Regions from separate parts of the Homo sapiens genome. Here region 2 is linked to region 1. The links come from fine-mapping of genetic effects on gene expression. A gene starts in region 1. The other region holds a variant in brackets. All regions are shown on one strand. Distances are from middle to middle.

The links. PIP is the estimated chance that this variant, and not a neighbour inherited with it, causes the effect.
Region 2: its variant is the best candidate, but not a certain one, in a credible set for the expression of C9orf40 in monocytes (BLUEPRINT, PIP 0.59).

What each region holds. Positions count from the first base shown.
Region 1 is chr9:74,950,840-74,955,839 of GRCh38, reverse strand. C9orf40 (chromosome 9 open reading frame 40) reads left to right here and starts at 2,928. Exons shown (of 2, transcript NM_017998.3): 1 at 2,928-3,654. The coding sequence starts at 3,229. CARNMT1-AS1 (CARNMT1 antisense RNA 1) reads right to left here and starts at 2,875. Exons shown (of 5, transcript NR_121183.1): 1 at 2,723-2,875. RefSeq lists silencers at 2,947-3,156, 3,427-3,636 and an enhancer at 3,967-4,036.
Region 2 is chr9:74,926,618-74,932,140 of GRCh38, reverse strand. No RefSeq gene overlaps it. Among named protein-coding and RNA genes, the nearest start is that of C9orf40, 24 kb to the left of the region's middle. The variant C/T (reference allele first, on the strand shown) is at 2,147.

The sequences.
Region 1 (5,000 bases):
GTATAGTTGACACACTCCTAAAGAACAAGATGTCAAAGACTGCTCTCAAAACTTTGATCATCTTGATGGTGGTTATGGTTTCACAGGTGTATGAATGTCAAATTGTACACTTTATATGCACATTATTGTGTGTCATTTAGACCTAGGTAAAGCTGTTTTAAAAACAAAAACAAAAAAAAGCCCGGCAAAACAAGCCTGGGCAACATAGTGAGACCTTGTTGCTACTAAAAATAAAAAATTAGCTGGGTGTGGTGGCACAAGCCATGGGCCCAGCTACTTGGGAGGCTGAGGCAGGAGGATTGCTTGAGGCCAGGAAGTTGAAGCTGCAGTGAGCAGTGATCACGCCACTACATTCCAGCCTGGGCAACAGAGCAAGACCTGGTCTCAGAAAATATATTAAGCTGGGTGTGGTGGCTCATGCCTGTAATCCCAACACTTTGGGAGGCCAGGGCAGGCAGATTGTTTGAGTTCAGGACTTTGAGACAAGTCTGGGCAACGTGGCAAAACCCTGGCTCTACAAAAAAATTTTAAAAATTAGCTGGGTGTGGTGATGTACACCTGTAGTCTCAGCTACTCAGGAGGCTGAGGTGGGAGGACTGCTTGCCCCTGAGAGGTCAGGGCTGCAGTGAGCTGTAATCATATCACTGCTCTCCAGCCAGGGCAACAGAGCAAGCCCCGTTTCAAAAAAAAAAAAAAAAAAGTTATTTAGCAATATACATACAGACATACAAATGGAAGAGTTAAAAAGCAAAGGAATGATTAACTCAACATGTAAAACGGTAATTACCGGGAGTGAGGGAAAGGGAAGGGTATGTGCCAGTGGGGAAGGGACGCATAGGGAGCTTGTCATGTTCTAGTATAGGTAGTATTCTATTTCTGAAACAGAATGCTGTATGTCTTACTATCATTCTTTTAACTACATGTGTATTTTATACAACCTTTTGCATATATGATAAGTTTCACAATTTTGAAAAAATGAGCGTTTGTAAAGAGGAACACAAAAGAACCAACCATTAGCTAAACTTATTATTTTGGGGGTACTCAAAACCTTTCAAACAGCACTTGATGACTACGATTAAGATCTTTCCTGCTGATTTAAAAATGGCAAAACTCTTCCTCTGTTTGAGACAGACGGGTTTTCAATTTATTTTTTTTTTTTTGGAGACAGGGTCTCACACTGTCACCCAGGCTGGAAGTACAGTGGTGCAATCTTGGCCTCTGCCTCCAGGGTTCAAGCGATCCTCCCACCTCAGCCTCCCTGGGACTACAGGTGCAAGGCACCACCTCTGGCTAATTTTTGTATTTTCTGTAGAGATGGGGTTTCACCATGTTGGCCAGGCTGGTATGGAACTCCTGGGCTCAGGTGATCTGTGCACCTCATCTTCCCAAAAGTGCTGGGATTAAAGACGTGAGCCACCGCACCCGGCCGGTTACCAATTTCAAACAAGAAAAGTAAAAACCAAACAGAAAAGCTATTGCTTACTACCCTAACTTGGTACATTTCTGTGCTTGTTAATAACTAATAATTAACTTGTCCTCTCACAACCACCTTGAGATGCAGGGGTACAGGGTAAATTAGTACTGAGATAGTACCTAGCACTAAAATAGAATTATCTTTCTTGCACACTTTTTCTACAGAGGATGATAGTTTTTCCCTTCAAAGCACTGGTAATAGTCTTATTTTCTTCCTTCCATTTCTGCTTACTTGGTTACTGTCTTTATCAAACTATTAAAATAGTAAATACGACCAGATGCGGTGGCTCACACCTATAAACCAAGCACTTTGGGAGGCCCAGACAGGAGATCGCTTGAGCTCAGTGGGGCCCGGCTGCAGTGAGCCGTGATGGCACCACTGCACTCCCGCCTAGGTGGCCGAGAGAGACCCTGTCTCAAACAAAATAAAAAATAAAAATAATAAAATAGTAAATATACTGCAATTGTCTCCACCTCACTTCACCTGACAACACTATTTTGCTGTAATGGCCATAGAATCTTGATCTGACCACCGCCCATAGTAAGCAGGGAACTCAGCCTTCCAACATTAATTAAGAGCCCAACAATTTTAGGTTTCAGTTAGAAAGGACAGCTGCGCTTCAGGCTTGGTTCTTGCCAACTACTCAGCTATTTTGGATGAGCTGCACATTTTGTCTGTAACTTCCTCCATAAGTTTTTAATCAAGAGATCTTCCAGGAATGTAGGGCCTGCTTCACCTTCCACAGCAGCTGCGCAAAACATGCAAAACATACACTTCGATTTGTGTTTTCTGTTAGCTTTAGCTACTTCCCTCAGCCCAGACTCCCTTCAGTCTTTTGTTTTGAATAACAACCTACTGTGAAGCTTCTTAAACACTAGTTTTATTTAAAGCTTGTATTATCCTTTTCCTTTTTTTTTTTTTTTTTTTTGAGACGGCATCTCGCTCTGTTGCCCAGGCTGCAGTGTAGTGGTGCGATCTCTGGCTCACTACAGCCTCCACCTCCCAGGCTCAAGTGAATCTTCCTCCTCAGCCTCCCGAGTAGCTGGGACCACAGGGGCAGGCCAACAAGCCTGGCCTATTTTTGATTTTTTGTAGAGACGAGGTCTTGCTATGTTGCCCAGGATAGTCTGGAACTCTATTATAATCTTTGTCTTAATCTCATGGAGACGCCCCCGTGGTCACTGACTGGAGGAAGGAAATACACATTTTAAAGGTTTTAAATTTCCTATAGAAGGGTCTAGAACGTACCGCGCTATAACGAACATAGTAGTAAGACCACCGCCACACTCCTGAGGAAACAAGGTCACGCCCCTCTGCGGGCCGCTTGATCGGGTCTTTAATTAATCCCGCCGCGGCCTTCCCGCCTACCCCCGAGCGCGCACTTCCGGTCGCGAGGGCGCTCGGGAGCGCGCCCCGCGAGCCTCCACCAACCAGCGGCTCCGCCTGGCCAGACAGAGTGCGCGCGCGCACGTTGTGCGCAGGTTCGAATCTCCGCCGCTTCGCGGTTGCTTCTCAACGTCCGGGCCGCATCTCGGCGGCGGCGAGGGCTGAGCGCGGGAGCTGCCTCCGAGCCGGAGCCCCAGCCCTAGGCCCTGCGCGAGCTGCCCCGCCCTACCCCCTCCAGCGTCCTGTCGCCTCCTCGCCCGACTTCGGCCTGTCCCTCTCTCACGCGCTCAGTCCTCGCTCTTCGCCCCCCGCAGCTATCGGCACTCGGTCTCCCGCGCCTGGCGGGCTCCGCCCGAGCCTCTGGGCCCATGGCCAAGCGGCGTGCGGCCGAGCCGGTGACGTTCCACGTGCCTTGGAAGCGGCTCCTGCTTTGCGACTTCGCTGAGCAGCCGCCGCCACCGCCTCTCTGGATCCGGCCGCCCGGGGTCGCGCATGCTGGGCAGCTCCTCGGCGTCCCAGAGCAGCACCGAAAGCGCAAAATCGACGCAGGGACCATGGCAGAGCCCTCGGCTTCGCCCAGCAAGCGCCGTGACAGCGGGGACAACAGCGCCCCGAGCGGCCAGGAGCGTGAGGACCACGGTCTGGAGACAGGCGATCCGCCGCTGCCGCCGCCGCCCGTACTGCCGGGGCCGGGGGAGGAGCTCCCGGGCGCCCGGCTCCCGGGGGGCGGTGGCGACGACGGGGCGGGGCGCGCAGGACCCCCGCGGGGAGACTGGGGGGTCGCATCGCGCCAGGTAGGGGCTGGGGGCGGGTGGGCTGAGGGGCGAAGGGGCTTGCCTTTTCCCCACACACACAAAACGCCCCGGTTCCCACTCATGACTTGTGTAGGTTAAGACGCCTGAGGGGGTTGAAAGAAGGGGTCACCGCTCCGGGAGAGGACGCCGACCGCCAGAAGCACACCCCGAGAGTCCGATGGGCAGAAAGCACTGGGCTGGGCGAGGGGGAAACAGACCGTGGTCGGGAGCGATAGAAGTGGCCTTGCGGCGTCAGCGCCGCGCTCCGTAAAAGGGAAACGGGACCGTGGGTCGTGGCGGGCTGTGAGCATGGCGAGAACGCAGACCGTCAGGGCATAGGTTCAGCCCAAAGACAAACGACAGATAAAGGTGTAGAGGGCCTTCCTGGGTTTAACGATGATTAGTCTAGAATTCGGGATAGAGTTCTTTTTCTAGAGGGAGACCAGTGTGGTAGCCATTGATTAATTGAACGTCCTACCGGCTGGTACAGCTTCTGGAGAAAAGGATGGACCACCGTACCTTGGTCAAAGCTTTGTTTTAACTCATAGTGTTAAATCTGATCCTAGGCAAAAGTATCATTGAAAATTAATTTGGGGGCGGGGCGTGGTGTCTCACGCCTGGAATCCCAGGACTTTGGGAGGCCACGGCGGGTGGATCACCTGAGGTCGGGAGTTCGAGACCAGCCTGGCCAATAGGGTGAAACTCTGTCTCTATTAAAACACAAAAACTAGCTGGGTGTGGTGGTGTATGCCCGTAATCACAGCTACTCGGGAGGCTGAGGCACAAGAATCACTTTAACCTGGGAGATGGCGGTTGCAGTGAGCTGAGATTGGGCCAGTGCACTCCAGCCTGGGCCACAGAGTGAGACGCTGTCTCAAAAAAAAAGAAAAGAAAAGAAAGAAAAAAGAAAATTAATTTGGGCCTTAAGGCGTATATGAGAATCATTGGCGGGTTTTTATTCAAGACATGAGCCTGCCTCATCTCTGCATGTAAGAATCCTGAGAAGATCTAGGTATGCCTCGGTTTGCCTAGATCTCTGCTGCCCGGCCGCTAGCCGGTAAGAACACTTGAAACGTGACTAGTCCAAATGGAAATGTGCTCTAAGTTTAAAATATACACGAAATTTCGTGGATTTAATAAATGAAGATAAAATAGCTCAATTTTATATTGATTACACATGAAATAACTTGGCTATATTGAAGAAAATATATTAAAATTAATACCAGAAGTTTCTTTTACTTTTTAAATACAGCTACTAGAAAATTTTAAATTATGTTTTTGGAGCATTATATATTTATTGGACAGCTTTGGTCTAGACTTAGGAATTCATACTACTTTTTCACAAT
Region 2 (5,523 bases), 24 kb after region 1:
TTCTTCCTCTGGCTCTCAGCTTGAACGTAACTGGTATATAGAAATGCTATTTATTTTGTACATTGATTTTGTATCCTGAAACTTTACTGAAGTTTTTATCAGTTCCAGGAGCCTTTTGGCAGAATCTTCAGGATTTTCTAGCTATAGGATCACATTTTCCATAAAGAGAGATGGTTTGAATTCTTTTCCTATTTGAATGCCTTTTATCTTTCTCTTGCCTTATTGCTCTGGCTAGCACTTCTAGTACTACTTGAAATAGGAGTGATGAGAGTGGGCATCCTTGCCTTGTTCCAGTTCTCAGGTGGAATGCTTCCAGTTTTTGCCTGTTCAGTATGACGTTGTTTAGAACACTCTTGTGTTGTTTTAACATACTCTTGTGACCTTTTGTGAGCTTGAAATCTCTTAATATTTTAAAATAGAATGGCTTTGACTTTACTGAAAAGAAACATACTTGTAAAAATTTAAGCAACACAGATAAATACAAAAAAGAATTTTATGATATCACTGTAATTTAGAAGTAATGTTTAGTAACACTAGATGAGCATCACATCTAGAACTTCTTGATGGACAGAGGGATTGGTGAATTGAAATATATAGATGCATAGAGGAAAGGTAGACAGAAAGAATTTTGTAAAATGCTTATTGGCTTATCATGCAATAAGCCACTTAAAATAAAAGGTATTACATGCAATTTTACTTGAATTTAATAGAAGGTAAGAAATTGAAATAAAATAGAAGAAACTGCTAAACCTCAAGATGTTTCTCTTTTAAATTTGTATTTATTTCTTATTTTCCAATGCCCTCTAGTGTTCCAAGGATGTTTCTTTTTTAAACACTTTTTTTTTTTTTTTTTTTGAGACAGAGTCTTACTCTGTCGCCCAGGCTGGAGTGCAGCGGTGTGATCTTGGCTCACTGCAACCTCCTCCTCCTGGGTTCAAATCATTCTCCTGCCTCAGCCTCCCGAGTAGCTGGGATTACAGGCATGCACCACCATGCCTGACTAATTTTGTATTTTTAGTAAAGATGGGATTTCTCCATGTTGGTCAGACTGGTCTCAAACTCCTGATCTCAGATGATCCACCCGCCTTGGCCTCCCAAAGTGCTGGGATTACAGGTGTGAGCCACCACACCCGGCCCACAATTTTAAAAAATTCATCTCCTGGCTGGCTGATTTCATTGCTGTGTAGTTTTTTTTGTTTGTTTTTTTTTGAGACGGAGTCTCACTCTGTCACCAGGCTGGAGTGCAGTGGTGCAATCTCAGCTCACTGCAACCTCTGCCTCCCGGGTTCAAGTGATTCTCCTGCCTCAGCTTCCCGAGTAGCTGGGACTACAGGCACTTGCCACCACGCCCGGCTAATTTTTGTGTTTTCAGTAGAGACGGGGTTTCACCATTTTGGCCAGGATGGTCTCAATCTCTTGACCTCGTGACCCACCTGCCTCAGCCTCCCAAAGTGCTGGGATTACAGGCGTGAGCCACTGCACCCGGCTCACTGTTATTTTTTAAAGTTCATTTTTATATGTGTTGCTTGGCTTGTTCAAGGTTCAATTCCTTCAGCTGATTATTTTATTTTATGGCTCTATATCCCTCAATAACATGTTTTTATTGTTATTTCTTGGTTAGCTTCAGGTATTTTGTTTTGATAACTCACCATGGAAGCTGAGAATTTAGCTCCTTTTGCCACCCCCACCACACATACGCACACATACATTTCTCCATATAGATATATTGTAACCTTGGCTAGTTCCGTATTCAGGATTTTCAGTATTATGAAAATGCTACTCACAGGAGAATACGTAGTATACTAAGATTCCTTATCCGCACAGAATAGGAAATTGTAATATACTATGTGTATTAGTCTGTTATCATGCCGTTACAGACATACCTGAGGCTGGGTAATTTATAAAAGAAAGAGGTTTAATTGACTCACAGTTCCACAGAGCTGGGGAGGTCTCAGGAAACTCACTATCATGGTGGAAGGGAAGCAAACATGTCCTTCTTCACATGGTGGCAGCAAGAAGTGCCAAGCAAAAGAGGGGAAAACCCTTATAAAACCATCAGATCTTTTGAGAACCCACTCACTCTCACAAGAACACCATGGAGGTAACCGCCCCCGTAATTCAATTATCTCCCACTGTGTCCCTCCCA[C/T]GATATGTGGGGATTATGGGAACTACAATTCAAGATGAGATTTGGGTGGGGACACAGCCAACCCATATCACCATGATTATTCTTTTCCTGGAATTAGTTTTTTTTTTTTTTAACTTGCTTAGTTGTCTATGTATTTTCTAGTATTTCAAGCCCAATCTCCCCCCACCCCGATTAGTAAATTATTTTCAACATGTTCTAGGTATTTTATCATTTGCAACTTATTGAAGAAAATCTCCCCACATTCTCCATGCCTGCTCAATTCTGTCTAGTTGCTCATTGCACCTACTGCACAGCCCTTGTTTTGGGGCCTCCTTTCCCTCTCACCCTGTGGATTCTTTTTACTTTTTCTCATATTGGCTCCCCTGTTCCCTGAACACCATACTTTCCATTTTCAGTTTATTCCATTGTTTTTGTGGAGCCAGTCCTCTAGTAAATCTTAAGAGGTGAGAATGTTAGGAAAATCTCAGGTTCTGAACACCTGAAAATATTTTTATTCACTTTTGCATTTTATTGTCTAGCTGAATGTGTTACTCTACATTGGAAATAATTTTTCCTCAAACTTTTGATGCCACTGGACCATTGTCTCCTAGTTTCCAATGTTGCCATTGAGTTATCCAATACTTTTCTGATTCTTCAGTTTTGTATGACATTTTTATCACAAAAGCTTATAGGGGCTTTTTTTTTTCCCACTGTTGTAGACTTTCACAATAATTTGAATTCCTTTTCATCCATTGTGATGGATGCTCAATTTAGAATTTAGACTTATATGCTGGGAAATTTTCTTGAATCAATTTCTTGATAATATCCTTGACTCTGTTTTTTCCCTTCTCTCTATCTTAGGACTCTTGGGCTGGTCTACAAGTTTTCATAGCTTTTCCATTTATTTTTCAAATTATTGTCTTTTGCCCTACTTTCTGGAAGATTTTTCTGGAAGATTAATTAATTAAATTAATTAATTTTTTTTTTAAGACAGGGTCATGCCATCACCCAGGCTAAAGTGCAATGGCACAATCATAGCTCACTGCAACCTTGAACTCCTGGACTCAAGCAGTCCTCCTGCCTCAGCCTGCTGAGTAGCTAGGACTACAGGTGCAAACCACCATGTCTGGCTAATTTTTTCATTATCCGTGGAGACAGGAGTCTCGCTATGTTGCCCAGGCTAGTCTCGAATTCCTGGCCTCAAGTAAGCCTTTCACCTTGGCCTCCCAAAGCACTGGGAATATAGGTGCAAGCCACTGTGCAGCTCACAGAACTTAAACACTGCAATTACTTTTGCACCAGCCTAATATGTATATATGTTTTCATCCACAGTTCCTGGCTCATAACTCCCATAGCCCTTGTTACGGTCTTTTGTTAAGACTCATAAGTAGGCCTCAAGTGACAGAATCACTCCCTCTGACCTTCTCCTGCCCTCTTTTCATTAGAGTCCCAAGGCAGCACTCGAATCTGATTGTGGGTCGTAAGACCCTCATTCCAGATACGGTCTTGCTGCATACTCTGGAGGAAGGAATGCTGCACGGAGAGCAAGAAGAATCTGAACTGAACAGACAGACCTTGCTGGGTTTAGATCACACCCTTTTTGTGCAATCAATTATTTTTATTTTTTAATTTTTTTTTTAGACGAAATCTTGCTTTGTTGCTGGGCTGGAGTGCAGTGGCGTGGTCTCAGCTCACTACAACCTCTGCTTCCCGGGTTCAAGCGATTCTCCTGCCTCAGCCTCCCGAGTAGCTGGGATTACAGGCGCCAGCCACTATGCCCAGCTAATTTTTATATTTTTAGTTGAGACAGGGTTTCACCATGTTAGGCCAGTTTCAAACTACTCACCTCAAGCAATCCACCCGCCTCGGCCTCCCAAAGTGCTGGGATTACAGGCCTGAGCCACCGCGCCCGGCTATCCAATCACATTTCGCCACGATTGTTCGTGCTTCAACCATGAACAACCAATGAAGTCTCCGTAATAGGCCCAAACGAGGGAGTTCAGAGAGCTTCCGGGGAACTGAACACTTGGAGGCCAACAGGAAGGTGAAGAAGAACTCATTCGTGTGCTGGGAGGGTGGCACACCCCAACTCCACAGGGACAGAAGCTCTTGCACTCAGGACCCTTTCAGAGCTGGCCCTGTGTATGTCGTTATCTGGCTGTTTATTTGTATCTTTTAAAATCTACTTTGTAATAAACTGGTGAAGGTAAGTATTTCCCTGAGTTCTGTGAGTCGCTCTAGCAAATTAACCCAAAGAGGGACTCATAGGAACTCCAACTTGAAGCTAGTCAGTCAGAAGTTCCGAAGGCCCGGACTTGTAACTGGAGGGAAGGAGGGGACGGACAGTCTTGCGGGGAGAGCCCTCAACCTGTGGGATCTGACGCTATCTCCAGGAAGACCGTGTCAGAACTCAACTGGGGGACACCCAGCTGGTGTCTGCTGCTGAAATGATTGCTTGCTTGCTTGCTTGCTTGCTTGCTTGCAGGTGGGGAGAAATCTCCGCATGTTTTGGGGTCACAGAACTCGTCTGTGTTGATTGTTGTCGGGGGAGAGCAGAGGGAAAACCGGTTCGGGAGTGTTTTCAAAACAATCGACATCACCCTATTTCCAGTCTACTTCCTCTGCCCCTGGGAACCACCGTTCTACTCTGTGTTTCTATGTATTCAACTCTTTTGAGATTCCACATAGGCTGAGCACTTGGCTCACGCCTCCAATCCTAACACTTTGGGATGCAGAAGTGAGAGGATCCCTTGAGGACGGGAGTTTGAAACAAGCCTGGGCAACATAGTGAGATCGAGTCTCTACAAAACTACTTAAAAATTTACATTTTTACATTTTTATGTAAAATGTAAAAATTTACATTTTTACAGTTTACATTCTTATCAACAGTGTGGAAGCGGTCCCTTACTTCCTCATCCTCACCAACACTTGTTATCTTTTGCCTTTTTGGTAATGACCATCTTAACAGGTGTGAAGTGATATCTCATTGTGGTTTTGATTTGCATTTTCCTACCTGTTGGACATTTTTACGTCTTCATTGGAGAAATGTCTATTCAGGTCTTTGCCCATTTTTAAATTAGGTTATGATTATTATTATTTTGCTATTGAGTTGTGTGGGTTCCTTATATATTTTGGATATTAACTCATCAGATATATGGTTCACACATATTTTCTCCTGATCAATAGGTTACCTTTTCATTTTGTTGATTGTTTCCTTTGCTCTGCAGAAGCTTTTTGTTTGATGTAGTCTCACAGGAATGATGTATTTTTTGACAATTTTTTCCTCCCTGCTTTGTTTTCTTTACTTCATATTAAATTTTTTCTAAAATATCCAGTAGCCTTTGGCTATCTGAGCATATTTAAGATTTGCACATTAAAAAGCAAATTATTTGGAAGGC